Homo sapiens: one gene and its partners. The protein of the gene in region 7 purifies or fractionates together with the protein of the main gene of each other region. This does not show direct contact. Each region holds a gene or a part of one and is shown on either strand. Other genes may lie near its edges.

Region 1 (4,258 bases), on a different chromosome or scaffold from region 7:
AAAATCTGAAATAATATGGAGTTGTTTTATAATTGATTGCAATTTGCTCACTCTGTAAGTCGCTTTCAAGTAGAATACTGACATATTCTTTTAAATTTTATTTTGTTCATTTGTATTTGAGAGTTAACTGGTATTTATAATATCTAGTCAAATATTTAAATAAAACAAGCTTTTAAACCAAAATTGTTAATAATTAATCCAATATCAAATTAAATTTTTAAGCACCTACGCATGACATGGATTACTGTTGATTTCCCTTGTATTATTTTGTATGTTGAGTTATTAATCAGTAAATGAAAATTTAGTTCTTCATTGTTACCCTGGATACTAATTTTTTGAAGTACGCTTTCATAGCATTAAAAAAAAGAAACCTTTTGGTGTATTATCATGAGGAAAGTTAACTTTATAATCTGTAGCAAAATATCATAAATATCAATTGCAATTCTCCGGATTATTTTCATTACATAGTTGGAATGGTAACAAAACCAGCAAATGAACAATCCCAGGACTTCTCAATACACAATGAAGATTTTCCAGCATTACCAGGCTCCAGCTATAAAGATCCAACATCAAGTAATGATGACAGTAAATCTGTAAGTAACTGAGAAGTGTGTATGTGAGTGATGTAGTTTTTCCCTTCAGATTTCTCTTATATTAACAATTACTTACTAAATACTATTACAAAACTGTTTTATCTTGATATCTGTAATAACCTAACTTCTGAAGAATGTGGAAAAGCTTTATAACTTAGAAGATAGCCTATTTTTTTCCTATTTCATATAGGTTTGCAAATTTCTGTTGAACTTCTCAGAGTTAATTTAGACTTTTATTGTAGTCCCTGTCAGCTGGATCCCATGAAGTTTGATAATATAGCCTTCTAAGGAGCTGTGTTTTTCTTGAGTAAGTTTTCTCCTTGAAGAATTTATACACATTTTTATACCTGTGTTGATTCAACCAACTCAGCTTCTTCTTTCTGACTTAACAAATATGTTTATTTCTTCCACATTTCACTGAAAATAGCTTTTCTCTGTGTGTGATGGGAGTTTATATATTATTAAAATAATTGATAAAGAAGATCGGTAAGAATTAAAATAAGTACAAAGTTTTAAAGCTTGTATGTCTAACTTATCTTCAAGGTAGCTTTGGTGATTTTAGGTAATATACTATATTTAGTTTCTCTTTTACATGAAAGCATTGAGGAGTGTAACTTCAAGTGTATCCCAAAGCATAAAGACCTGAGAAAGAGATAGATTTTTTTTTTTCTGTGACTGAAGATCTGAGATAAATAAGATATTTTCCCTTGATTTCTTTTTCTTTAAATACTCAAATGTGGATGATATAGGATTTATTTGTATACCATGGAACAATGATGGAAACAATTTTCTATAGAACTTGAAAAACAGGTAATAATTTAACTACCAATTTAAATGTAATAAAGAATAAATAGCAAGGTATTAATATGTGAACTTGAATTTGTATACTTAACAAATTTTAATGTCACATTTAATTTTTTTCATGCTAGAATTTGAATACATCTGGCAAGACAACTTCAAGTACAGATGGACCCAAATTCCCTGGAGATAAAAGTTCAACAACACAAAATAATAACCAGCAGAAAAAAGGGATCCAGGTGTTACCTGATGGTGGGACTCTAGAAATCTATGTCAAAGATATTATAGAATGCTTTTTTTTCTATTTTTTAACTTTTTCTTGAAAATAAAAGCAACTGTGTTTTTCCTACCCAGGTCGGGTTACTAACATTCCTCAAGGGATGGTGACGGACCAATTTGGAATGATTGGCCTGTTAACATTTATCAGGGCAGCAGAGACAGACCCAGGAATGGTACATCTTGCATTAGGAAGTGACTTAACAACATTAGGCCTCAATCTGAACTCTCCTGAGTAAGTTTTTTCTGTTTTTCCATGTCTGTATATAATACCTCTTCAGACTTCCAGTTTTTAATATCATGTCATCAAATTATCTCACCTACTGCTACTCATTGTTAACCTGCTGATTCTCTGGGTCATTCCCATTCATGTTAGCTCTTAGATCACTGTCACTCTGCAGTATTCCTTTTATAATTTGGCATTTTATGTGTGTGTGTGTGTGTGTGTGTGTGTGTGTGTGTGCATGTGCATGTATATATGTGTGTGTGTATATATATATATATACACACACACACACACACACACCTTCCAGAATCCTGAAATCTCAGCTCCTTGAATTTCTTTCCTCCAGGAATTTTTGTCCTGTAGTATACTTCAGCCACTCCTTTAGTTATCCCTTTGACCTAGTCATTGTTCGTAACTGCAGTCTCTCAATTTTAAAATCTGAGCTCGCATGCTTTCCGACTTCCACTTTCTATTTTCTATTTCTCTTCTTCTAGTACTGTGATTCCTGTAATCATTTCACTCCATTGGGACCTTCAATCTATTGATTCTTCGGTATTTTAACTGTTCTTCCAGATCCCCGTCTCTTTTCCCCTGTGATCAACTCCCTTCTTACCCATGAAATTCTGTGGTCAGTCATAATTGTTCATTTACATATCCCATGACTACTTGCCATTTTCTCATGTTGTTATACTTGCATGGCCAAAGCTACAGTACTGATTGTTTCTGCCTATTTCATTCCTGACCTGTGCTACTGAGCTCTGCTAGAGAAAAACACATGATATCACTGCCTGGTCTTCCTTTATTTTCATGCCCAGGAGCCTCAAAAGTAGGCTCTTAATTCTACCAGTGATAATTATACCTTGCATGCTTAGTCCATTTACTCTTTTGCTCTCTTATGCAACTATCGTACACTTCTGCATGCCCCTAATACCTTTTCTCCTTATTCTTACTATCAAATGATGATCTTGCTTTTCACTTTTACTGTACTAAGAAAGATGGAAGCAATTAGAAGAGCACATTTAGCACAGTCTAGCCAACAAATCTGACTACCTACAGCCACCTACACCTATGTTATTCTTGTTTTCCACCCTATTACCATAATTGACCCATGCGTTCTACTTACAACACATTTTCACACTTTGTTGGGTCATTTTCATCAACATAGAAATACATTGTTACTTCTCTCATCTTAGAAGAAAATCTTCCTTTGATCCAACCTCCTCCGTAAGTTACTTTCCCATTTCTTTATTTCCCTTTGAAGCGAAACTTTTCAAAGAGTCATCTCCATTTCTCCGACTTGGTCTTCTCCCATTCTCTGGTAAGCCCATTTCAGTCAGGATTTTGTCCCTGCCACTTCACTAAAGCTGCTTTTATCAAGGTCACCAAATGACCTTCATGTTATTAAATTCAGTGGTCACTTGGAGGAACTCTTGCTCCTTGATACACATTCTTGTACTTGAATTTGAGAGCACCATTTTTACCTCATCTTCACTGGTTGGTCTTTTTCAGTTTCCTTTGCTGGTACCTCCTCCTTTTCTTCTTGACCTCAGTGTCATTCCTCTTCTCTGCATTTACATCCTTGATGATCTTTTTCTAGTCTTATTGTTTTAAATACCATATATATTGAGGAATCCCAAACATATGTTTCCATTCCACACTTCTGAGTTTGAGATTTCTACATTCAATTGCCAATTAAATATTTCTTGAATGATCACCCCCCAACTTATTCTGTCTACAGCCTTTCCAATCTCAGTTAGTGGTAACTCTGTACTTCCAGAAACTTGGCATTATTCTTAACTCCTCTTTCTTTTATACCCCATAATCAGGCTTTTCCCAAAATATATACAGAATCTAACCAAAGCTCACTACTTTTAACTGCTACCACCCTTGTTTGAATCATTCTCTCTTGCCTGAATACTCCATTAGCCAGTCACTGGGGGTCCCTGATTGTCCTTATACCCCTTCCCGTACAATCTCTTCATATAACAGCCAAGACAATCCTTTTTTAATACATTACTCCTCTGCTCAACACCCAGTAAATGTTTGTGGTTTCATTATGATTAAAAACCCCAAATCTTTTTTTTTTTTTTTTTTTTTTTGAGACAGAGTATTGCTCTTGTCGCCCAGGCTGGAGTGCAGTGATGCAATCTCGGGTCATTACAACCTCCACCTCCCAGGTCCAAGCGATTCTCCTGAGTAGCTGGGATTGCAGGCATGTGCCACCATGCCCAGCTAATTTTTGTATTTTTAGTAGAGACGGGATTTCACCATGTTGGCCAGGCTGGTCTCTTAACTCCTCACTTTTCAAGTGGTCTGCCCACCTTGGCCTTCCAGAGTATTGGAATTATAGGTGTGAGCCACCGCG
Region 2 (4,258 bases), on a different chromosome or scaffold from region 7:
AAATTAGATTCTTTTAGTTTTTTTTAAATGTACAATTAAATTGGTTTTTACTATAGTCACCCTATTGTGCTAGCAAATACTAGGTCTTATTCATTCTTTCTATTTTTTTTGTACCCATGGGTGATTACCTTTTTTTTTTTTTTTTTTTTTTTTTGAGATGGAGTCTTGCTCTGTCACCCAGGCTGGAGTGCAGTGGCGTGATCTTGAGTCACCACAGCTTCCGCCTCCTGGGTTCAAGCAATTCTCCTGCCTCAGCCTCCTGAGTAGCTGGGATTACAGGCGCACGCCACCATGCCCGGCTATTTTTTGTATTTTTAGTAGAGACGGGGTTTCATCATGTTGGCCAGGCTGGTCTCGAACTCCTGACCTCAAGTGATCCTTCCGCCTCGGCCTCCCAAAGTGGTAGGGTTACTGGTGTAAGCCACCATGCCCAGTCTGATGATTACTTTTTAATGGTGCCCATATTTTGATTTAGAAATTCAAAACTCTATTTGGAATGAGAATAATAATTTATAATTTCTTTTTAAAATAATACTTATGGGTCGATCATGGTGGCTCACGCCTGTAATCCCAGCACTTTGGGAGTCTGAAGTAGGCGGATCACGAGATCAAGAGATTGAGACCATCCTGGCCAACATGGTGAAACCCTGTCTCTACAAAAAATACAAAAATTAGCTGGGTGTGGTGGTGCGTGCCTGTAGTCCCAGCTACTCGGGAGGCTGAGGCAGGAGAATCACTTGAACCCAGGAGGTGGAGGTTGCAGTGAGCTGAGATCGCACCACTGCACTCCAGCCTGGCGACAGAGTGGTCTCAAAATAATAATAATAATATTAATAATAATAATTATGGAGCAGTAAATTAGCTACTAATGCTAGATATTCTCTTTTGGTAAAAATCTGATTTACTTTTTGGTGTCTGGAGTTTTTTTTTCATTGTAACTTTTTGAGAGATATTTAACCATCATAAAAAAGTGATAGACTTGTCTCCCCAATTAAGTAATACATTAAAGGTTTATGGGAGCTGTATTTGAGGAATCTGTGATTGGAAAAAACGTAATTTATAGTTCAATTAAATAAAATCTTAATATTCATTTAAAAAACATTAAACAGCCAGGCGCAGTGGGTCAGGACTATAATCCTAAGAATAGGGTGGCTAAGGTGAGAGGCTGAGGTGGGATGATTGCTTACACCCAGGAGTTTGAGGCTGTAGTGAGCTATGATTGTGCCACTGCACACAAGCATGGGCTGCAGAGTGAGACCCTGTCTGTAAAAAAGAAAAGTTGAATAAAATTTATTTCCTTATTTCACTGATAATTACATTGCAAAAGTTTTTTCTTCCCCTCTAGTGTGAGCTTTGGGTCTTTATTAAGAATTGAAGTTAATCATAATAGTATTTTGTATGTGCTTTAACCGTGAATTTATTTTTATAGGATTTCTATAATTGGCCTGATGAATCCTTTGATGAAATGGACAGTACACTAGCTGTTCAACAGGTAATAAAAATAGTTTCTTTTCACCCTGTGTCTTTTGGAGTACGATGTGTAAGTGCCCATTGGGTGGCCTTTGTCTGTTGGTCACTGTGCAGCAGTCTGCTTCCCAATAAAGCGTGCTCTTTCACAAAACAAAACAAAATAGTTCCTTTTACAACTCCAATAACCTAAGCATTTTACCTCTGACATAGTTAAGTATTCTTATATCTTTTCGCATAGAGAAGATTCCACTGAATTAATGGAATGCCTATTTAAAAGTTTAGTCAACCCTCATTTTGTTTTAAGATGGCATATTAAGCTGGGCACTGTGGCTGCCAGCACTTTGGGAGGCCAATCACTTGAGGCCAGGAGTTCAAGACCAGCCTGAGCGACATAACAAGACCCTGTTTCTACGAAAAGATAAATTAGCCAGGCATGGTGGCACACACCTGTAGTCCCAGTAGCTAGGGAGTCTGAGGTGGGGAGATCACTTGATCCTACTTCAAGGGTCTAATGAGCTATGATTGTGCCACTGTACTTCAACCTGGGTGACAGAGTGAGATCTTGTATCTTAAAAAAATAAAAATAGCCCAGGTGTGGTGGCTCACAGCTGTAATCCCAGCATTTTGGGAAGCCGAGGCAGGTGGATCACTAGGTCAGGATATCAAGACCATCCTGGCCAACATGGTGAAACCCTGTCTCTACTAAAAACATAAAAAATTAGCCAGACATGGTGGCATGTGCCTGTAGTCCCAGCTACTCGGGAGGGCTAAGGCAGGAGAATCGTTTAAACCCAAGAGGCGGAGGTTGCAGTGAGCCAAGATCATGCCACTGCACTCCAGCCTGGCCAAAAGCAAGACTCTGTCTCAAAAAAAAAAAAAAAAACAAAAACAAAAACAAAAATACAATTTCATTAAGGGGCTAATAAAAAGATAATATAAATTGGAGCGTACTAGTATATTGGATTAGGCATTGGTTAAATTTTTTTTGTTTTGAATTTTTAGTAGAGACAGGGTTTTGCGATGCTGCCCACCTTGAACTCCTGGGCTCAAGCAGTCCACCCACCATGGCCTCCCAAAGTGCTGGGATTGCAAGTATGAGTCACTGCACCTGTCTTTTTTTTTTTTAGACGGGGTCTCACCCTGTTGCCCAGGCTGGAGTGCAGTGGCTCAAGCATGGCAAAATGTAGCCTCAACTTCCTGGGCTCAGGTGATTGTTCTACCTCAGCCTCCCAAGTAGCTGGGACTATAGGCGCACACTGCCACATCTGGCTGATTTTTTGTAGAGATGGGGTTTCACCATGTTGCCCTGGCTGATGATAACATTTTTAAAGGGAAAATATACCATAAATCGAGGCTGTTTGGCTTCATTTTGATAGCCAGATAATAAAAGTAGATAGCTGGCCGGGTGCGGTGGCTCACGCCTGTAATCCCAGCACATTGGGAGGCCAAGGCGAGCGGATCACCAGGTCAGGAGATCGAGACCATCCTGGCTAACATGGTGAAACCCCATCTCTTACTAAAAATATAAAAAAATTAGCCGGGCGTGGTGGTGGGTGCCTGTAGTCCCAGCTACTCGGGGGCTGAGGCAGGAGAATGATGTGAACCTGGGAGGCAGTGAGCCTGCAGTGAGCCGAGATCGTGCCACTGCACTCCAGCTTGGGGGACAGAGCAAGACTCCATCTCAAAAAAAAAAAAAAGTAGACAGCTATTCGGATTTGTTATGTTATTTGAAGATCTTAGAAAATAAAAGAGACATATAGTTGAATTATTTGAGCATTAAAAACCACCCATCTGGGTGTGGGGGCTCACACCTGTAATCTTAGTACTTTGGGAGGCCGAGGAGGGAGGATCACTTTGAGGTTGGGAGTTTGAAACCAGCCTGGACAATATAGTGAGACCCTGTCTCTGTAAAAAATAAAAAGGTTGGGCTAGGTGGCGTGCACCTGTAGTCCTAGCTACTTAGGAGGCTGAGGTGGGAGGAAAGGGTTTATGGTGAGCTGTGATTGCACCACTGCACTCCAGGCTGGTGACAGAGACCCTATCTCAAAAAAAAAAAAAAAAAAGAAAAAGTGCTGTTCAATCAGCAAATATTTATTGGCTTCTCACGATATAGCTAGCAATGAGTTAGGCCTTGTGGAAGATAAAGGAATATAAACCTAGATCTAGCTCTATGCCTAGAAATTGGTTAAATTTTGAAGAAAAATGTACAGATGGTTATCTCTTTAAAAATAGGGGGAAGTGTCCTGTTTGTTGAATTTGTTCATTTATTCTCACAGGTTTTTTGGATGTGAAATCATTAGGGTTTTCTACATACGAGACCCATGTCATATAATTTTACTTCTCCAATCTAGATCTGTTTTCTTTCTTTTTCTTGCCTAATTGCTCTGGCTAGACCTTCCAGTACTACTTTGAATAAAAGTGGTGAAAAAGGGCATCTTTGTCTTCTTCCTGATCTTAGAGGAGAGCTTTTAGTTTTTCACTGTTGAGTATGATGTTCACTATGGATTTTTCATATATGGTCTTTATTATATTGAAGTTGTTTCCTTTATTCGTAGGTCATTCAGTGCTTTTTAGATCATAAAATGGTGTTAAATTTTGTCAAATGCTTTTTCTGCACCTATTGAGATGATCATGTGTTTCTTTTTCTTACTTTTTTTATTTTTTTATTTTTTTGAGACAGTCTCGCTCTGTCACCAGGCTGGAGTGCAGTGGCGTGACCTCAACTCACTGCAGCCTCTGCCACCTGGGTTCAAGCGATTGTCCTGCCTCAGCCTCCTGAATAGCTGGG
Region 3 (4,258 bases), on a different chromosome or scaffold from region 7:
GTGAATTCAGAGTCTTTTCTTAAATCTAATTTTAGCTACAGATCCAGTAATGGGAAAATAGTAATTTATAAAAACAAACTTAAAATAATACATATGGAAAAAACTACTCATTTTGTCTTATTGCTTAAATTTAGGAACTAATAGTAATTACCACTTACTAGAAGACAACTATGGTGCCAGGCATTGTGCTTGGAACCTTTTTTTTTTTCTTTTTTTTTCCTTGAGACAGAGTCTCACTCTGTCTCCCAGGCTGGAGTGCAGTGGCATGATCTCGGCTCACTGCAACCTCCGCCTCCTGGGGTCAAGCGAGTCTCCTGCCTCAGCCTCCCAAGTAGCTGGGACTATAGGCGCACACCACCATTCCCCGGCCAATTTTTTGTATTTTTAGTAGAGACAGAATATTACCATGTTGGCCAGGCTGGTCTCGAACTCCTGACCTCAAGTGATCTGCCTACCTTGGCTCCCAAGGCGCTGGGATTACAGGTGTGAGCCACAGTGCCCAATCTGTTACATTAAATATATATTACTTCAAAAAATATATGTAACTGTTACCTAAATTAATCATTTGAGAATAAGGCAGCATCATTATTCTTTAACTTGGTAGCAAGTATACGCTACCTAGTAATGAATTTTATAAAATTTGCCTAAACCAGAAATGTGTAGGAAATGAAAGTACTACTTAAACATTTTTTCCAAAATTGATTTTAGCCGAAGATATATGGGTATACTTGAATCATGTATAACTCTAAGTCTAGATATTTATAAGTATTAAATCTGAATTTTTAACCAAAGATTATTGTGACATATGAGATACAGTAATTTGGCATATGTATTAAGTTTAATTGATGTTATTGCCTTTGCTCTGTAAAGGGGATTTGTTTGATGTCCCAGTCAAAAAATTTTAAATACATCTTGTTCCCTTTTAAGATTTCCCTAGTGGCACAGTTTCCTTACAGTTAAATAATTTTGCATTTTTTCCCTCTCATAATTTACCATTTACTTCACTCACCTTAAAAAAAATCACTAAAGTAACAAAATCATTCAAAACAAAATGAATGAAAAATAAAATAGTGTCTGTTAATTTTTTCAGATCTCATTTCCACTATTGAGATATATTCCTGTTTTACTTTAGAAGTATTTTCTAAAATACACATAGCAACTCCTTTTTTTTTTTTTAATTTTATGCATTTAGTGGTGATTTTGCTTCGTTTTTGGTCTGTTTTGCCAAATATGCATAGTACAACTTGCTAAAATTTTTGTAATTAATGTACATTTAAAGTGCAGGTTTTGCAATTTAAGGCAAAGCCACGTTAGCAATGTGGACCCTTTTAAATGTTTCAAACCAATGACTTAACGGAAAAAGCCAGTCAAGGCACACTCTACACAAAAACCAACTTAGAACTCTCTATGTGTGTTTGTTTATGTGTTATGTGTGTGTTTTAAAGAAAGAATATAGGTCAGTGATCTGTTTCTTGATGCTGGTAGGAGGGCGAGGGGAGAGATTTGATAAGTGTGAACTTCATTACAGTTTTTGAAGTATCGATCTTCCTGGAATTTGTTATTTAAAGAGGTGTGAGTTTGACTTCAAGCTAAGAAGGCAGCTTTGGAGTATACAGTCTCCTTATTTTCAGTGGCAGTCCCCAACTTCCTTCTTTACTTTTGAAGTCCATGTCCTACCTCATTTTATAAAGAACAAATGTCTGTTTTCTAGGAGTGGAACTTCAACATTACAATCTTCTAGACTATTGCTGCTAAAGACTTGAGACCTACCATGTTGCCACTGGTATAAATGGAATCTGTTACCTGGACTAAGTTCTTGGGAAAAAGAGTTCAATATGCGAGCTACAGGTTTCCTTCATCATAAGTGTCCATCAAAAGGAAGATTAGTTACAAAAGTCTGAAAAAGACCTTGTATTTTATAGACCCGTTATACTAGTATTGTTATCTTACTTGATGAAATCTCTTAGGCCTCCTAAATTTCCATCATTAAATTAAAAACTAGGGCAGGCATAGTAGCTCATGCCTGTAATTCCAGCACTTTGGGAGCCCAAGGCAGGAGGATCACTTGAGCCCAGGAATTCAAGACCAGCCTGGGCAACATAGCAAACTCTGTCTCTATTAGAAAAAAAAAGAAGATATTAAAACTACTTTTTTTAGGCCGGGCGCGGTGGCTCACACCTGTAATCCCAGCACTTTGGGAGGCCGAGACTGGTGGATCACGAGGTCAGGAGATCGAGACCATCCTGGCTAACACGGTGAAACCCTGTCTCTACTAAAAATACAAAAAAATTAGCTGGGCGTGGTGGCGGGCGCCTGTAGTCCCAGCTATTCAGGAGGTTGAGGCAGGAGAATGGCGTGAACCTGGGAGGCAGAGCTTGCAGTGAGCCGAGATCGCGCCACTGCACTCCAGCCAGGGCGACAGAGCAAGACTTCAAAAAAAAAAAAAACCAAAAAAACTACTTGTTTAAATAATTACATTTTTCTTTGAATTACTAATGACATTTTTATATTATGGGTAATTATATTACCATTAATAAAATGAATAGGATAGAAATTAATTCCCTCTGCAGGGAAATAAGGGCAAACAGATGAGTAGCTGCTGTGATTACCATATGCCACAGTGATGGGTAATATGGAAAGCAGAGGTAGTAGTGTAAAAGAATTTTTGCACATATATGTGTAAATAGTGATTAAGCAGAATAGCTTGCAATAGGTACATAAATATGTCATAAAATATATGTGTGTATATAGAGAAAAAGGACAGAAATGTGGTCATATGATTAATTAGAAATGAGTATAATACTAATTTTTTGTTAAGTACAATTAAGCCAAAACTCGAGTAAAACTAATGTCCAGACACTTCCCTTCACATGCTCCTAAATTGGTCTGGCTGATCAGAGATAGTCTTGCAAAATCATTTGTTACGTTAAAGTTATTTTATTGGGCTTTTGAGATTTGTGTCAGTGAATGTTTGTATAATTGTGAGTGGGAGGAACTGTGGCATTTTGTTCTGACTTCTCTTAGAAACAAATTCCCTGAGCTTAAAGTAAAAATATTTCTTTGTCTAGAGAAAAATGCTTTGAGTAAATATTATATAATGACTTTTATATAATTATCCTTAAACATAAGTTTAAATTATTGATTTTATAGTTTTTAGCTGCTTCTGGTATTGCCAATAACTGCATACTAATAATTGGTAGGAAAAGATCAAAAGATCAATGCTACAGATTATTCAGATTCAATAAGTGTCATCATTGAAAGATTAAATACTACTTAATATCTCTATATATTTTCTGTCAGGTGCTTTCAGATTCATTTTAGATCAAGTAACTGAATCAGAGCTGCATTTTAGAGCCCTATTTGAGTCAGATTATATAGCTTATTTTGATAGGATAAAATAATAAAATAACAAGATATTCTAAGTACAGTTGAATTTTATTTTGCCATAGTATATATATGAATTGTGTCTTCTCAGAATTATTTCCAGTAGTTTAGTGATGACTGTCAAGTTTCATTACACCTGTTGTGTTTCCTGTAGCATATTTATATCATTTTTCATGGGAATTTTTTTAAAATTGATAATCAGCTTGATTTTTTGTATAATGTGTCCCTTTTAAATTTGCTCATGAATTTTAAGTGTGTTTTGATATATTGAGTTTTATATTATGATTTGAGTATTTCTCCCTTGTTATCTTAATGTTAAAATTTTGCTTTCAAAGCATATTTGAAATGATATTGAAGGTTGTTGCTTAAACTATGACTGTTACAACAAAATATTTAGATAATAGTCATTCAATTATGGCAGAGTTTAATTGGTCAGTAGTATGTATAGAAAGGAAAACGCATTTTAAATAATTGGAACTGTTAATATTAACATGAAAAGCTGTAATAATGCACATGATATAGTTGAGAAAACTAAGTGAAGCTCAACCTGAGTTTAGTTTGAAATTGAAATGGCAAATCTGATCAGAAATTAAAGCTCTGTGGTCAAGATTACTTGCTTCATTTTAGAGTGTCATGGTAACTAGAATGGGACATTAAAATAAAAGTCATAGTCAAAGCTTTAAAGCTGGAAGACAGGCTGGGCGCGGTGGCTCACGCCTGTAATCCCAGCACTTTGGGAGGCCGAGGCAGGTGGATCACTTGAGGTCAGGAGTCAAGACCAGCCTGGCCAACATGGTGAAAGCCCATCTCTACTAAAAACAGAAAAATTAGCCGGGCGTGGTGGCGGGCGCCTGTAATCCCAGCTACTTGGGAG
Region 4 (4,131 bases), on a different chromosome or scaffold from region 7:
TCAGCAATCAGTCCCTAGTGATCTCTCCTAAATTCACTTCATTCCTATCAGGTCAGATATTTAGAACAATAAAATCCTAAAATGATTAGCACTCATTACGTTCTTAAGTCTGGTTCAAATTTCATGACAGTAAAATAGTATTTTCTAACTAGCAGATTACATATATATTTTTTTAACTTTTTTTTTTTTTTTTTTTGTTAAGAGACAGGGTCTCTTTCTGCTGCCCAGGCTGGAGAGTGCAGTGGCATGATCATAGCTCACTGTAACCTCAAACACCTGGGCTCAAGCAAGCCTCCTGCCTCAGCCTCCCAAGTAGCAAGGATTACAGGGATGAGCCACCACACCCTGCCTCACAGATATTTCTTTATAAGAAATTCAAAATTTTAGTCACTTAAGACACTGGAATTTCATAAGACAGAAGATGGGGAAAATCAAGTTAAATGAAGACAACAAGTAGGCCGTTTATACTAACAAATTGTGCCAAATCTAATCAGTACATTGCCTTTCAGTCTACCCTAAGGTGACAGCCTCAAACTAAGTTAAACAAACACTCATGAAGTCATACTATATACTAGGAACTGTGAAAGATATAAAGATGAAAAACAAAAAATACTACTATCTGCCCTCAAAGAATTTATAATTCAAGGAGAGAGATCAGACATCTATCCTCTGCATACTATGCTTTTCTTCACCTAGCATGACCAAACAGGTGTTGAAAAGGTTAAAGGAAAGATTTTCAAGACCCAAAAGTGTAACAAACAGATCTTGCTTACTGTGCTAAATAATAAAAGAATATTATTTGCTTTTTCCTATTAAACCTCGGCAATCACAACTTTGGTTTGCTTAGTCTCTTACCTTAGTTTATTTTCTGTTCTCTGTTGATATAATACAACTTATCTTTTTGGGATTTTCTGTTCTGCTTTTAGTTTTTTCTGCTGTTATTGCTGGGAGCTCACGTCTTACCCTTCTATTGCAGCACACATTGCGTTTGCTAGAGACACCCTCCAGTTTCTTCTTTGTACTTTCTTACTGGAGATTTGGAAACAATCACTGAGAAGACCTGTGAGCACCGAGTGGCTCTGAAAACTTCAAACCTAACTATTCAAAAGTAATTATCTTTAGGAAGTCTACCTTCAGAAAGTCTAATCAAGAAGGTAAAAGACAACAGTCATTACAATCACCCTCCGTGATTCCAACTCCTTGCATTTTATTGCCATCAGCTTTGGCTATAGCTGACAGAGGGGAGGTAGACTTGAGATTGGAAGCAAAAGAAACTATGCTAAAAACATGGTAAATTTTAATATATAAAAGCGCTAGCAATAGATGATTACTGGGGATTCAACGACATTAACATGAGGTCAAAATCAACACTTTGCACCTGCTGAAATGAAGACCACTTGACAAAACCTTTAGGAGCACACTAGAAGAGGCACTTTTTGGTAAACATGAATAGCTAGAATACCTTGCCTTTATTTACTCTTATCTCTGAGATTTAAAAATTGTTCTTACTTTTCATCCTCTAAATTTTGATAGATGATCGTAAAACCAATCAAAATATACATGAATGTTTCCTGGGGGCGGGGAGGACACTATAAAAAAGGGGTTAGAGAGTTACCAAAGGACATAGGACTAGATTAATCATAAACCTAGATGACTGACCCTGAATTTTCTTCAAACACTTCCTGTCTTTTGTTTCAACCTGCAGTATACCTTCAAGGTTAACTGCAGTCTCCCTGAGCAATGGACCAGCCCACCCTAGACTGGGATATACTCATTCCTAATCCACTGCTACTTATTTACTTATGTATACTGTTTCATTTGAAAACATGGTGTTATTCATTGACTGTCAAGCAACATATACTGCATTCCTGCCCACACAAAGCCAGCTCTGCAGATATCCAACACACCCACCTCACTGTGAAATATAAGATGGCTTTTCATCAAGTTCTCAGGGAGGAAATAGGGTGGAAAAGGAAAAATGAAACGCAATTCAAACCTAAGAAACCCTTAGAGGCTGGGTGCTCCCAGAAGGAACAGAAAGTAGAAGGAAGGTACAAAGGGTGAAGGAGAGGAGGTCCTAGTTCTCCCTCTTTCACAGTCCAAAACAGTCCCAAAACAGGAGAGCTCTCGACTCCTCACAAGAGGCCAGAGGATGCGAGGGGCTGCGGGAGGAAGACTGAGCATCAGAGAATGGGGGATGGGAAGAACTTAAGTGGGAGAAGCCGCTTCCTCCGTAAAGCTGGCTGTCTAGGTCGGTCTTTGATTTTTGCTTCGCCCCATCCCTCCTTTTTGGGAAACACCAATTTTATCTTACGGAGGAAAGCAGCTCCAGTCCCACCCTGGCGAGCAGGGACAGGTGTAGGGAGGGATGTTTGGCCTTCCGGGGGTACGAAATGGGGTTGGGGGCGGCAGCCTAGAGAATCGGTACCTGTGAGTCCTCTCCGCCAAGGCTGAGGTGCGGGGTGGGAGGTGCCTTTGAATGAGGGGTGTCAGAGGGAAGCCCCTTCTGAGGAGCTGGGAATCGACGAGGGACAAAAAGTAGCTGTGAGGACCCTCGGAGGATGAGGAGCCGCCTCCTCGGGGAATACCGGGAGGTGGAGGAGACGGCCCCGCCCCCTCAGGGGATGGGCCCAGAGGCCGTTGAGACGGCGGCGGGAGGCTACCGGTGCCCCTATCCTTGCTTTGCTCTTGAGAACCCGGCCTCCCAGCCATCACCAAGCCCCAGGGATAGTTGCTCCTACCTTTCCACGACGCTCCGGGCTCCGCTCCCCTCCGCCTCCACTCCCCATCCACAGCGGCTGAGGCTCCGCCCCCTCAGCCGCCCGGCGGGGGCATTGGCATTCACCAGCGCCAATCGCCTCCTTGCTTCTCCAGCCTCGGCCCCAATCCGCGCCGGCTGGAGGCGGGGCTTCTCCAAAGTCATTCAGGCTCCTCCCGGGGCCCCAAGATCCCTTTTGTTTGGGAAGAGCAAGGCCGGGATTGAGCTCGCGTCACTTCCGGGAGGAAGCGCCCTCCTGGGTCCTGGGCTTCAGGGTGGGCTCGCGCCCCTCCCGGCTCGGGGTCTGCAACTTTCCACCTCTGCGTGAAAAGTCTGGGCAGGACCGTGACTAGTGCTTCGTGCTTTTACCTGACTGTACGCGGAGTTTAGGAATGGAGGGCTCTGGTGGCCTAATCGATTGGGATTTTATCCAGAATGTTAATAAATGAAGTGGGCTTTGGTGTCTGCATTAGAATGAATTCGTTGTTGAAAAACCTGGCTTCCTTGCTCCCTTTTTTTTTTTCTTTTTTCTGGAAGCGCCTGTGGGCGTGGTGCTGGAAGCAAGGGTGCAAAGATGAAACACCTGGAGATCACCCTTCTCTCAACCACATTTTGTACAGAAGAGGATACTAACTTTGGGGGACATAAACCCAGCCGACCTGCCTTCCAGGCGGAAGTCAAATAATTGCAAATTTGTGTGGCAGGTTTTTCCACCCTATGCTTGCCAGCTGAGGCGACTTTTTTCTTTCCTTGGCCTCATTATATTGTGGGGAATGGTGTTTGCAGTGAAGTTGAAACAATGGAGAGTACAGAGGATGCAAGGAATGTCTGCCTTGTGAACACAGGAATGCAGATCTTGGTGGCAGCAAGTCTTAGGCAGGACCAAATAACTCAGAGAGGGGAGTGGATGTATAACTAGTTGTATCCCTACCTAAGGTCAAAGTTTCTGAATTCCTTTTCCACAGAATGGCTGTCAGCTCACAGATTGATGCAGCTGGTTACATTTACAATAACCACATTATTTAAAATACAATATAATAAATATTTGAGACGAATATTCATAATGCATAAATAATGTAGTACACTTAATACATTATCCCTAAACTTAGCAATTATAATTCGCAAGACAGCATTAGGGACCTAGTGCTTGCCTAGGCAGACAGTCCCCAAGGCAGATGCAGCCTGCCTCATGCAGTTTACAGTCTGACTGAGGGATGTGATCAGTTTGTGCGATTATAGTCTGAAAGAAGTAAACAAGTATTTATCATGTTATCACTGTGCCATGTACTTTCATTTAATGGTATTTGATGTCATTTTCAGTGCTGTATGAGAAATCTATCCTACAGTGTAGGATAGACATCATTGTGTCCAAT
Region 5 (4,258 bases), on a different chromosome or scaffold from region 7:
GTCTGCACAGAGATTTTGGCTGGTTGGAGATATTTGCATATGATACGCTTCTCCAGAGTTGCCACTAGTGTAAAGCAAGGCTGGCCAGGAGGTGCTTCTTGGGGTGCTGGGCACGGGACTTTGGAGGAAGAGGCTGAGGCATCTCAGGAGCCATCAGCTGCACAGAGGCTGTCCTTAGTGCTGGGAGAGCCAGCTTGAGGTATGGCTGGCTCCTTGGGCCTTTAACAGCTCTGCTGGGCTCAGAGGCTCCCTTTCTCTTCCTACTGCTATGAAGGCAAGAGCTGGTGTGGTCTGGGCTAAGCGGGAAGCTGAGGGTCCCTGCCCTGCCCTGCCCTCTGGCCTTGCCCTTCTCTCACCTGAAAGTGTCTGGAGCCTTGGCCCCAGAGCTAGTCCTTTGCCTGTCCCAGACCAGGGTGCTGTGAGGTCACACTCTTGCCCAGGCTGGGTTCCACCCGCCATCTTCCTTCTCTCCCTCACTCCAAGTAGGGCTTAAGAACAACTTCAACCCTGGAAAATCACTCTTTCCTCTTCCCCTCCCCCACTGCAATTCTTCAAGAAGTATTGGCAGGGCAGCAGGACCAGCTGCACTCTTCCTGGCTAGAGGAGAACTTTAACTCCTTATGGGTTAAAGGAAAGAGGAGTTATCTTTTTAGGAGCTGTTGAGAGGTCTGGGCATCCAGGATGCTTTTCCTAAAGTAGCTGGGGAATTTAACCCTTCATGCTCAGGTAGGGAATAAGCACTGTTTTCTGGGGCACTTGCCGAATGGAAAATGGACAGATTCTGTGTCCCTAATAGTTGCAGGCAGGGCTCAAGAGTAAATGGCTAGGAGGGTTTAACCTTTGGGTGCTGTTAAAGTTGCACTGGGAGACTCTCCCACATTTTCCATTCTGTGACAGACTCTAACATTCCGTGCTTCCATTTCCTGTCCTCGTCCCTCACAGGAGCCTTCCTTCCGACCTGGCCTTCAACGGGGACCTGGCTAAGGCAGCCAGCTCGGAGCTACCTGCTGATGTGAGTTATCCTCCAGTTATGAATCAGAATCACGTATTTTAGAGCTGGAAGGGTCATATGAGATCATCTTTTCTACTCCTTGTAGTTCAGATGGGGAAACTGAGGCCCATGGGGAGAGTGACTCACTGGAGGGCTGGCCCTGGGATTTTTCGACTCCTGGGCCAGTGCTCTTGATCACCAAAGTGGCTAGGTGTGGTTAAGGCCATGAGGCCATTCATCATAAACAGTAATGATAGTATCCACAACAACTGCCATTGATTAAGTCCCTACTATGTGCTGGGCCTGTCCTGGGAACGTTAACCAACTCAATCCTTGTGATAACTCTGGCTAGTAGACCTGGTTAGTCCCATGTGAGAGATGAGAGCACCTGTACTCACAAAGGGTAAGTAACTTAGGCTGAGGCAGCAGCTACTGTGTCTGCCTCCCATGCTTTCCCTGGCTGGGCTGCCTTTTCTGAGTTCAGAAGAGGGGTGAGTCCTTTTGCTGAGATTTTCCCATCATACTCCCGTTCTTGAAGATGGTCAGCCTGCTTTCTTGAGTAAACAAGGTACAGGATGGCCCTTTTTGCTCATACAGCCCTTGCTAGCTGGAGATCTGACTTGATTCATTTGTCCATCCAGCAAGCAGTGACTGAGCGCCTGTTAGGAGCTGGATGTTGGAGATAGCTGTGAAGGTAGAGTAGAGAGTGCAGGGACGAGTGTGGTCAGGGAAGGTGTCACTGTGAAGGGCAGAGGCTGAGCTGTGTGCATGTCTGGAGAGCAGCATTCTTGGTAGAGGGCACAGCAAGTACAAAGGCATTGGTGCTTTCCTGGCAAGGAGGCCAGGATGTCTGCCTGGCAGTGAGAGAGGAGTTAGGTGGTAGTGAGGACCAACGGGTTGGGGGGTTGGATTGTGTCAAGTCTCGAAGGCCTCTAGAAAGACTTTGGCTTCAGTGAGAGCAACAGGCCATTTGAAGGGTTTGCAGGAGAGGCATGGGATGCTGCTGTCTTAGTTGTGAAGAGTCACCTGGCCCACTGGATTAAGAATCAGTTGCAGGGAGGTAAGATCAGCAGCATGGACCAGTCAGGGGGCTGTTGGAATAGTCCAAGTGAGAGATGATGACGGCTTGGACCCTGGAGGTAGCCTACGGTGGAGATGGGGAGAAGTGGTTGGTTCTGGATAGAATTTGAAGGCATGGTGGAAAGGACTTTCAGATAGATAGAGAGCACAGAATCAAGGGTGACCCCACGGCTTTTGGCCTGAGCAACCGGAAGGATGAGTTTATGGTTGCCGAGACGGGGACTTCTAAGGGTGAAGCAGGATCGGGGGAGATGGGAGGAGTTTGCTTTGTGGATTTGTTGAATTTGAGATGGTTTTCAGACATCCATGTGGAAACGTCAAGCGGATGGTTGGGTAGTCGAGTCTGGCCTTCAAGGGAAGTGAGCAAATTTGAAAGGAACACTTGGGAATTGTCAGAGTAGGAATGCTTGTGAAGACTGGCTGAGATTACTGAGAGTGGGGATGGTGCAGGAGGGGAGGGCCCAGAGGCACAGCCAAGGAGACTGGGAGGACAGTGAGAGAGTCCACCAAGTGGAGACAGCCTCCAGGACTGGGGGAGGGCGCCATCAGCTGTCAGATGCCACTGACAGGTCAAGTAAGATGAGCACAGAGAATTGGATTCAGCTCCAGGGAGGTCATCCGTGACCTTGACGAGAGTAGTTAGGTGGCAAGGTAAAGGAGAAAGCCTGTTTGGAGTGGTTTCAAGAGAGAAGGGGACAAGAAGAACTGTGGATATTAATAGTGAATATAGACAGGGCTTTCAAGAAAATGGATGGTAGCTAGTGAGTGATGTGGGGTCAAGAGTGGTTTTTTGGTTTGCTTTTTTGGCTTTTCAAGACAGAAGAAATTAGAGCAGTTTGTGTGCTGATGGAAATGATCCAGTAGAGAGGGAAAAAAAAATCGATGCAGGAGAGAGAGGAGGGATTGACCTCAGCCCCAAGCGAGGACAGTGCCTGATAGCAGAAGGGGAGGCAGAGTGCTTGGGCTCCCATGCAGGAAGTAGGTGGTGTGTGTGTGTGTGGCGGTGGGGGGGTTGTCGGGGGTTCTCTGCTGGTGGCCTCTGTGTTCTCAGGGAACAGGAAGCAAGGCCATCAGCTGAGAGAGGATTGGGGGAGGTGTGGAGGTCTGACGGGAGAAGATGCTAAAACATTGCCTGGGAGAGTCATGGAGTGAATGGCAGGGGGAGTGCCGTGGGATTCTGGGCAGCTCTAGGGCCGGCTTGAGGTCAGCAGTGAATCTGGAGTGAGACCAGCTGTCACGATTGTGTGTTTTTATCCAGCCACATGCAGCTACTCAGGTGCTGGGCTAGGATTGGCCCAGCTGTATTGGAGAGCTGTATTTAAACAGGTTAAACAGTATGATGAAGCAGATGAGGGAGTTGAGTGTTGAGTAAAAAGTGACGTTAATGGTGATAAGAAGAGAGGTGAGGGTATGAGGGGAGTGGGGGACAATGAGAAAGAATTAGGGTTAAGGGGCTGTGCTATGAGAGGGGCTGAAAATAAGGGCGTTGGGGAAATAGAGTGAGCCGGTCAGATAGGCGGTGGGGGTGGGCAAGTGGGATACTTGGGATTGAGATGATGCAGAGGTTGCAGCCACTGGTAAGGATGAGGTCTAGGGTGTGACCTTGAGAGGATGGGTCGCACAGTCACTGAGGAAGAGGAGGTCAACGAACCAGAGGCTGGAAGGGTCGCATCTGGCTATGGAGATGACTGTAAGCTATCACAACAATGATGGAGAGGGTTGCAGTGATGCAGCGGTTATGGTTTTCAAGGAATGATGGGTGCGTAAGGGTCAATAACAAGAAAGAATTGTGGGTGCTGTAGTTTAAGGGCACGAGCTTTGACATTAGAACGTTGCAGAGGGGAGTGAGCATGGAGGGAACAGAAGGGACCTTGAGAAGCAAGCAGGACCCTTTATTTTGCCCAGGCCTAGTAGGTGATGATGTGGGAGAATTAACGACATGGGAGAGGGCGGCCAGGGAAGTGTGACCTCTGCAGAGGGCAAAGGTCAGATGGAGCCAGAGTCACTTCATTGTCTGGGGACAGGTGGAGTGCCAGGTGCTTGGTGCCTTGTTTGTCCCCCTCTTCTCTCCACGTCCTCCCCACTCTCTGCCGCCATCATCCCATGAGTCCTATGCCGAGGGGCCAGTGCACACATTTCCCTTCACCCTCACCTAACTGGGAGATGAGCATTGTTGCCACCAGCCCT
Region 6 (4,258 bases), on a different chromosome or scaffold from region 7:
TAACTGTAGTTACCTCTAAGGTTGGGGATTTACAGGGAGACTTACTTTTCATTGTTTACACTAAAACCTTTTGCATAAACTTTTTTTAAAAAACCATATGCATATAATAGTTTTTGAGAGGAAAAAAAATTATGCCTTCCCAATACTGGTCCCTCCCCAGTGATTCTGACATCCCCCCTCAACTGAGCAGAAAACCTGTAATTTGGAAAAGCTCTCCCTCTTAATGATTCTTCAGTATATTCTCTAACTACATCCCTTTGAGAACCATTCATTACTTACTCATGTAGGAAATACATACTTAATAGGGCATGCTTTCATTATTATGCTAAAGAATCACAATATTCCCCCCAAATTTGAATATTTTATAATTCTCTATAGTCATCAAATATGTTTGTGACCTTGGTTAAGTTCCTTAATTATTCTTATCTGGAAAACAAGATGGGAGACTAGAAAAATGATAATTGCTACCCCTAAGCTCTAAACTGCTAACAAATTCCTGGTGATTTCCATCTCTATGCCCAATATGTTCTCAGGTAATTGCCCCCAACCATGAGAAATAAAAGAAGGAGCGGGAGGCGGGGGGGAAGGCTATCTACACTTGCAGATGAGATCACTAATGTTCAGAGGAATTAACTCACTCAATTTAACCAGGTATGAAGGTATGAAGTTGCATATTCCCGTACTTTTTTGAACTATATTACAGTTTCTCACAGTACTTATAAGTTCCCAAAAGATCTTAGCTTGACAGAATGATGACCTACCCATTGTACAGATGTAAAGACAAAGAACACAAAGAACTGCCTTTGTTGAAGATCAGAAGCATAAAATAGACTTTGAAGTGGATTCAAATTTACTCTACCCAATCTGAATAATGGCCTTTTAAAAATGGAAGCTTCATTGTAAGTTTTTAGCTTTATTTTTACTATTTCACTAGCCTGACAGAAAGAACCACAAGTTGTTCTGCTAAATAGACTGAAATACAATGCAGCTTAAGCTTTAAGTGCCTTACAGTAATCTGCTAAAAGCTGTTTTGTAACTCCCTTCAGGGATGGTCCTCAAGGAATCAATCATAGGCTCTTAAAGCAACAATATGATAGAAGGAATATGGTAGCTTTTTTCCTCCTTTCCCAACAGCAAAAGCAGTGTTGTTCAGGCACTTGCCCTTTCTAGGCAGCCACAAACAGGCCCTCAACTTAAAAACTATTTTTGGAAATGTAATTCCTACCTGAAGATAGGGTATGTGTTTATTTAGAATATTACATCACCTTAGACGCTCAGCAGAAACACAGGATAAAATTTTAGTGTTAGGTTTCCTGCCCAGTCTCTTGGATGACCCCACAATCCAGTAACCAAAGGGGGCCTCACAGATACTGGTCTGGCAATATAGTACCTTTCCTGATTAATCAGTACCCATTCCAGCTGACCTTCCCCAAAGTCTTGTCATACAGATACCACCATCAGTAAACTCCATCATCCCTACTGGAGCCAGTGTGTGACTTGCAGTTGGCACCTTGTACCCCATCTTGCCCTGGTAACCACTGGTTTGCATACCATGCCTCCTGAACACCAGGCCCCATCCCTACATATTCTCTTTCTGGAGCTGGCCTGATGCCCACAGAGAAGATGGCCCTGCTGGCAGTGGTGTAGGCACTCTGAAAGGCCAATGCCTGGTGCGTACACGGGTTCCTAAAGCCATGGACACCTGCTGCTAGCAATACTCCAATTTGTGAGATTATTTGTGGGGGCTGCAGCCTCCATGTGATTTTGATTCTAAGAGAGCTAGAACCATGTCAGGTGGGTGGTAATGTGGCCCCCATGGGCACTAGCTTGGTGTTATGGGTTCTGCTGTCATTCTAGCCAAAAGGAGGGCAGTTTGGTGCCAGGAAATATCTAGGGTGGGGATCCTCCTTTTCATCATCCCTGTTGCATTTCACCCCCAATTTAATAACAGCAGTAAGTTACACCAACTGAATACCCACCTGTCATGGGATGAATACAATTTTTTAAAAATAAAAATGAGAGCTTAAAACATACAGTGCTTACTCTGCCAGGCACTGTCCTAAATACTTATATTTACCAGCACTCTCATTTTATAGATAAGGAAAATCTGAGGCACAGAGAAGTTATGTAAAATTTAAATGGCAAGCTAGGATTTGTACCCAGGTGTTCTAGCAACAGAGCCCACACTTTTAACCGCTTTGCTAATGCTGCTTCTCATCTGCCTGAAAGACAAAATCTGATCTAAAGATGACTTTTTTTTTTTTTTTGAGATGGAGCCTCACTCTGTCTCCCAGGCTGGAGTGCAGTGGTGTGATCTCAGCTTACTGCAACCTCCGCCTCCCAGGTTCAAGCGGTTCTTCTGCCTCAGCCTCCCCGGTAGCTGGGACTACAGGCATATGCCACATGCCCAGCTAATTTTTGTATTTTTAGCAGAGATGGGACCTTCCCACGTTGGCCAGGCTGATCTCAAACTCCTGACCTGAAGTGATCTGCCTGCCTTAGCTTCCCAAAGTGCTGGAATTGCAGGTATAAGCGACTGTGCTCAGCCTAAAAATGACTTCCTAATAAATTATATTCTTTGACCTAGACAATATAGTTAATACATAAAAATCTCAGACAAAAAGTAAAATGTTATTGGTGGTAGTTCAACAAAATCTGAAAGAACACTCAGTACTATGAACAGTAGCATTGATGTTAGGAGAAATTCTCTACTTATTGAGATTACAAAGCACTTAATAGGTATTGTTTTCAGAGAGAAGTCAGTACAATAGTTTCACATAGTTCCCTGTGTCACATTATGGATCAGATGGGGCATAATTTACTTAGTGAGAACCACCAACACACACATGGACATATAACAAGCAATTTTGTAACACACATATAGGAATTTCATTGTTTTGGAGAATAAAAAGGAAATATTCTTATATTTTGAGTTATATATTAATTTATATAACCAGATGATTGATAAAATATTTTGGACATTCCTAAATAAAACACCAAAACTCAAAATGTATCTTACTCTCCTTCCATATCCCAAGAGTTATTTAGGCCCATCTTTCACAAAAAGAATCTGTAATTGACATCTTTTTAAAAGGAGGCGGGCAGTAGAAGAAGGGGTACGGCAGGTGAGGGAAGAGTTAGTTCTGTTGTACCACCTTTTTTTAAAAACATGGTTTCATTTAATGATCACAACATGGTGGTTATTAACCTCATTTAACAATCGATGAAACCATGGGCAGACAACAGGCAGATTTACTCCTCATGCCACTCTGTAACGATCACCTCTAATGATTCCTAGTTCAGATGCTACAACTCTTTGAATTTTTAATTTACTAATACATTTCTAAGGCTGTGGCTGATATGGAACTCAATCTAGTAGCACACATTGCTCACTGACAGGCAAGCAAATTAATCTATGACTTCTCTACTGGAAATTACCTTATTTGAAGCATTAATAATAATTGCAGGATACCAACCAAGAGAGCAGAGGTTGACATTTTTTGAGGCCCAGACCCTTTAAGAATCAAATGAAGTCCGGCACGGTGGCTCACGCCTGTAATCCCAGCACTTTGGGAGGCCGAGGTGGGAGGATCACAAGGTCAGGAGTGTGAGACCATCCTGGCTAACATGGTGAAATCCCATCTCTACTAAAACTACAAAAAAATTAGCCAGGTGTGGTGGCAGGCACCTGTAGTCCCAGCTACTTGGGAGGCTGAGGCAGAATGGCGTGAACCCGGGAAGCGGAGCTTGCAGTGAGCGGAGATTGCACCACTGTACTCCAGCCTGAGCCACTGTACTCCAGCCTGAGCTACAGAGCAAGACTCATCTCAAAAAAAAAAAAAAAAAGAAAAAAGAAAAGAAAAAAGAAAATTGTGGATCTTTTACTCAGAAAAATACACAACTGCAAAAACACGAAAACCTACACATAATTTTAAGGAGTTCACAGAGTTCCTGCAATGTATCCATGTACCCAGGATTAAGAATCTGTTTATCAAATTGAAGAACAGGAAAGACCTCAATTTGCAAGGAACTACATGTGTATATAATTGGAACACACACTGGCGTGGGAGCCTGAAGTGACTTCAAAATCCAGTTTTGCTCTTTCTAGAATTGTGTGACCTAGGATAAGTCATTTAACTTTCCAAACCTCAATTTTCTCATTGTTAAAGTGAAGGAACTATATTAAATAATTGTCAGTCTCAGGCAACTCTAAAATCTTAGAAATTATTTAGTTCTTAGTTGTGAGAGTCTAATCTAA
Region 7 (3,617 bases):
CCTCTCCTCCTGTCTTTCTCCTCCTTTCTGCGTATTATGAGGTGCCAAGACCTGATATAGGGGATGGAGGTAAAAAGAGATGGGGTGAGAAGCTGCAGCCCCTCCTCCCACCTCCTCCTCCTTCTGGCAGCCCTAGTGGGTGGAGAGGGCACTCGGCTCGACCAGCTGCAGTACGACGTGAGGAAGGGTTCTGTGGTCAACGTGAATCCCACCAACACCCGGGCCCACAGTGAGACCCCTGAGATCCGGAAGTACAAGAAGCGATTCAACTCCGAGATCCTCTGTGCAGCCCTTTGGGGTAAGCCAGGGCAGGGACAGCTGAGGAGGCTCTGGCGTGGCTCTTGTGCTCCTGGTTAGGTGAGGGCCTGGCTGAGCCTCTGACCTGCCCAAGGGCTCCTGTTGCAGGGGTCAACCTGCTGGTGGGCACGGAGAACGGGCTGATGTTGCTGGACCGAAGTGGGCAGGGCAAGGTGTATGGACTCATTGGGCGGCGACGCTTCCAGCAGATGGATGTGCTGGAGGGGCTCAACCTGCTCATCACCATCTCAGGTACAGGTGTGGTGAGTGGGGGAGGGAGGAGGGGCTCAGCTCCTTGGCGCTGTCACCATCTTCTGCCTGGGAGGAGGGCAGGCACTGGAAGGTGGGGCCACACTTTCTCACCCCTTGTGGTATGCTGACAGAGGAGGCCAGGGCGGTGGCATTCGGGCCTCAGATGAGAATGGGGGCGGGTGTGTATGTCTGTCCGTCCCTCAGGGAAAAGGAACAAACTGCGGGTGTATTACCTGTCCTGGCTCCGGAACAAGATTCTGCACAATGACCCAGAAGTGGAGAAGAAGCAGGGCTGGACCACCGTGGGGGACATGGAGGGCTGCGGGCACTACCGTGTTGGTGAGGATGTCCCAACAGAGTGGCCAGCGCATACTTGTTCATGAAGAGAGAAATGGATCTGGGAGCCAGGGACTTGGGGCCTGGGTGGGGCAGTGTAGTGACAGACCACGGGGAGGCGCCCGTGGCGCAAGAAGGGAAGTCTCAGCATCCCTCTTCTCTCCCGCCCCCAGTGAAATACGAGCGGATTAAGTTCCTGGTCATCGCCCTCAAGAGCTCCGTGGAGGTGTATGCCTGGGCCCCCAAACCCTACCACAAATTCATGGCCTTCAAGGTAATCCCAGCCTCGGTCCCTAACACCATCTGGAGTCCCAGCGCCTCTCCCCGTGCCCCTGAGCCCTCCTCTCCTCCGGTTCTCTGCAGTCCTTTGCCGACCTCCCCCACCGCCCTCTGCTGGTCGACCTGACAGTAGAGGAGGGGCAGCGGCTCAAGGTCATCTATGGCTCCAGTGCTGGCTTCCATGCTGTGGATGTCGACTCGGGGAACAGCTATGACATCTACATCCCTGTGCACGTGAGCTTGGCGGGGCTGCTGGGGGAGTGGGATGGCCCAGTCTGGGCACCAGACACGGAGACTCTAGTCCCCCTCCTTCTCCCCAGATCCAGAGCCAGATCACGCCCCATGCCATCATCTTCCTCCCCAACACCGACGGCATGGAGATGCTGCTGTGCTACGAGGACGAGGGTGTCTACGTCAACACGTACGGGCGCATCATTAAGGATGTGGTGCTGCAGTGGGGGGAGATGCCTACTTCTGTGGGTGAGTGAGCTGCCGCCCTCCCAGCCACATGCCCCGAGGTGGCCCCGGGGTGCAGCCTGCTCAGCCCCTCACCTGTTCCCCACAGCCTACATCTGCTCCAACCAGATAATGGGCTGGGGTGAGAAAGCCATTGAGATCCGCTCTGTGGAGACGGGCCACCTCGACGGGGTCTTCATGCACAAACGAGCTCAGAGGCTCAAGTTCCTGTGTGAGCGGAATGACAAGGTGGGAGGCTCCTTCCCTCTGAAAGCCCTGCTGTCCCGGCTGCCATGACCCTAGGCCCCTGGGCAGAGTTCTGGGGAGAGGATGGTGGTGGTGGCTTCCTGAAAGCGGGCCCCTCTGGGAGCTCAGAGGGCAGTCAGCCACTACCACTGCCCTGCGCTCCCTTCAGATTCCGAGGACTTCCCAGCTGGCCCCCAGGGGGCGAGTGGTGCACCCTCTCCCCTAACATCCCAGCCTGCCTTTCCTCCGGGTGAGGGGCACTGTGAGTCTCCTCCTGCAGTCTCTGTGTCTCCCTCAACTCTTCTGCCACCCCTTCTTCCCTTCTTTCCCTCTCCCAGTTGAGACACCCCCCCAACCTCAGCCCTTGGTGACTTCTTCTCCTGCCCCACCCAGGTGTTTTTTGCCTCAGTCCGCTCTGGGGGCAGCAGCCAAGTTTACTTCATGACTCTGAACCGTAACTGCATCATGAACTGGTGACGGGGCCCTGGGCTGGGGCTGTCCCACACTGGACCCAGCTCTCCCCCTGCAGCCAGGCTTCCCGGGCCGCCCCTCTTTCCCCTCCCTGGGCTTTTGCTTTTACTGGTTTGATTTCACTGGAGCCTGCTGGGAACGTGACCTCTGACCCCTGATGCTTTCGTGATCACGTGACCATCCTCTTCCCCAACATGTCCTCTTCCCAAAACTGTGCCTGTCCCCAGCTTCTGGGGAGGGACACAGCTTCCCCTTCCCAGGAATTGAGTGGGCCTAGCCCCTCCCCCCTTTTCTCCATTTGAGAGGAGAGTGCTTGGGGCTTGAACCCCTTACCCCACTGCTGCTGACTGGGCAGGGCCCTGGACCCCTTTATTTGCACGTCAGGGGAGCCGGCTCCCCCCTTGAATGTACCAGACCCTGGGGGGGGTCACTGGGCCCTAGATTTTTGGGGGGTCACCAGCCACTCCAGGGGCAGGGACCATTTCTTCATTTTCTGAAAGCACTTTAATGATTCCCCTTCCCCCAAACTCCAGGGAATGGAGGGGGGACCCCGCCAGCCAAAACATTCCCCCCATTCCCGACCCCCCTCTCCTCTTCTAGCCCATGCCCTTCCCCGGTGGAGGGAGGGAGCAGGGAGCCCTCACTCTCCACGCCCCTTGCTTGCATCTGTATATAGTGTGAGCAGCAAGTAACCCTTCTCCCTCCCCCCCCACCCCTCCTCAATGTAGTGGCCTTGGATATCCTGTTTGTTAATAAAGACAATTCAACCAGCTCCCACCATGCAGGCCGCATGTCCTTGCTTTCTGTCAGTACTGTAGACTAGGCAGAGAGAGCCTCCAGGGTGGGGAAGAAAGGGGCAGGGTGGGCTGGGATCTGCAATGAGTGAGCCTCATGGGGTGGGATGGGCAGTGCTGGGCCAAGAAAACCTAGAAGAAATGACTGTGGAAGGGTCAGGGCAGCCTCAGCCTTAAACCTGTGGGCCTGAGGGCCACCAGCACTGAAGGTGTTTGGTTCCCACCCGCTCCAGCAGAGCCAGACCAGGGAAGAAGAGGGTTTCCTGGCTACAGCCTCCCTGTGTGCAAGTCCTGCAAAGGGGTCTCCTGTTTGGCTATGAAATGAATATAGATAGATAGCTCACAAGCTGGCAGCCACCAGAGTCCCGTGGGGCTGAGCCTTAGAAAGGCTGGGAGGTCAGCAAGGCTGAATGAAGGGCAGTCCTTGCTTTCTGGAAGACTGGCACCTGAGAGCCTATGTGAACCCTTTCCTCCTGCTGACCCCTG

What was found.
Region 1: the proteins of MINK1 (region 7) and CNOT2 purify together in Homo sapiens (affinity purification with mass spectrometry; 2 studies listed by BioGRID and IntAct, with this or other methods). This does not show direct contact.
Region 2: the proteins of MINK1 (region 7) and MOB4 purify together in Homo sapiens (affinity purification with mass spectrometry; 3 studies listed by BioGRID and IntAct, with this or other methods). This does not show direct contact.
Region 3: the proteins of MINK1 (region 7) and STRN3 purify together in Homo sapiens (affinity purification with mass spectrometry; 3 studies listed by BioGRID and IntAct, with this or other methods). This does not show direct contact.
Region 4: the proteins of MINK1 (region 7) and CTTNBP2NL purify together in Homo sapiens (affinity purification with mass spectrometry; 2 studies listed by BioGRID and IntAct, with this or other methods). This does not show direct contact.
Region 5: the proteins of MINK1 (region 7) and TNKS1BP1 purify together in Homo sapiens (affinity purification with mass spectrometry; 2 studies listed by BioGRID and IntAct, with this or other methods). This does not show direct contact.
Region 6: the proteins of MINK1 (region 7) and CNOT9 purify together in Homo sapiens (affinity purification with mass spectrometry; 3 studies listed by BioGRID and IntAct, with this or other methods). This does not show direct contact.

The regions. Positions count from the first base shown.
Region 1 is NC_000012.12:70,336,921-70,341,178, forward strand, and holds part of CNOT2 (CCR4-NOT transcription complex subunit 2), read left to right. Parts: intron 1-468; coding exon 469-593; intron 594-835; coding exon of another isoform or gene 836-865; exon of another isoform or gene 866-1,499; intron 1,500-1,522; coding exon 1,523-1,643; intron 1,644-1,745; coding exon 1,746-1,902; intron 1,903-4,258. UniProt on the Homo sapiens protein: Component of the CCR4-NOT complex which is one of the major cellular mRNA deadenylases and is linked to various cellular processes including bulk mRNA degradation, miRNA-mediated repression, translational repression during translational initiation and general transcription regulation.
Region 2 is NC_000002.12:197,522,195-197,526,452, forward strand, and holds part of MOB4 (MOB-like protein phocein), read left to right. Parts: intron 1-1,429; coding exon 1,430-1,492; intron 1,493-4,258. Other genes in the region: HSPE1-MOB4 protein, read left to right, coding at 1,430-1,492.
Region 3 is NC_000014.9:30,914,473-30,918,730, reverse strand, and holds part of STRN3 (striatin-3), read left to right. Parts: intron 1-4,258. UniProt on the Homo sapiens protein: Calmodulin-binding scaffolding protein which is the center of the striatin-interacting phosphatase and kinase (STRIPAK) complexes.
Region 4 is NC_000001.11:112,394,883-112,399,013, reverse strand, and holds the start of CTTNBP2NL (CTTNBP2 N-terminal-like protein), read right to left. Parts: upstream 2,801-4,131; 5' UTR 2,742-2,800; exon of another isoform or gene 2,429-2,741; intron 1-2,428. UniProt on the Homo sapiens protein: Regulates lamellipodial actin dynamics in a CTTN-dependent manner. Associates with core striatin-interacting phosphatase and kinase (STRIPAK) complex to form CTTNBP2NL-STRIPAK complexes.
Region 5 is NC_000011.10:57,314,572-57,318,829, reverse strand, and holds part of TNKS1BP1 (182 kDa tankyrase-1-binding protein), read left to right. Parts: intron 1-942; coding exon 943-1,012; intron 1,013-4,258.
Region 6 is NC_000002.12:218,574,976-218,579,233, reverse strand, and holds part of CNOT9 (CCR4-NOT transcription complex subunit 9), read right to left. Parts: intron 1-4,258. UniProt on the Homo sapiens protein: Component of the CCR4-NOT complex which is one of the major cellular mRNA deadenylases and is linked to various cellular processes including bulk mRNA degradation, miRNA-mediated repression, translational repression during translational initiation and general transcription regulation.
Region 7 is NC_000017.11:4,894,945-4,898,561, forward strand, and holds the end of MINK1 (misshapen-like kinase 1), read left to right. Parts: intron 1-130; coding exon 131-298; intron 299-391; coding exon of another isoform or gene 392-405; coding exon 406-549; exon of another isoform or gene 550-550; intron 551-753; coding exon 754-888; intron 889-1,058; coding exon 1,059-1,159; intron 1,160-1,248; coding exon 1,249-1,398; intron 1,399-1,484; coding exon 1,485-1,644; intron 1,645-1,729; coding exon 1,730-1,869; intron 1,870-2,259; coding exon 2,260-2,343; 3' UTR 2,344-3,117; downstream 3,118-3,617. UniProt on the Homo sapiens protein: Serine/threonine kinase which acts as a negative regulator of Ras-related Rap2-mediated signal transduction to control neuronal structure and AMPA receptor trafficking.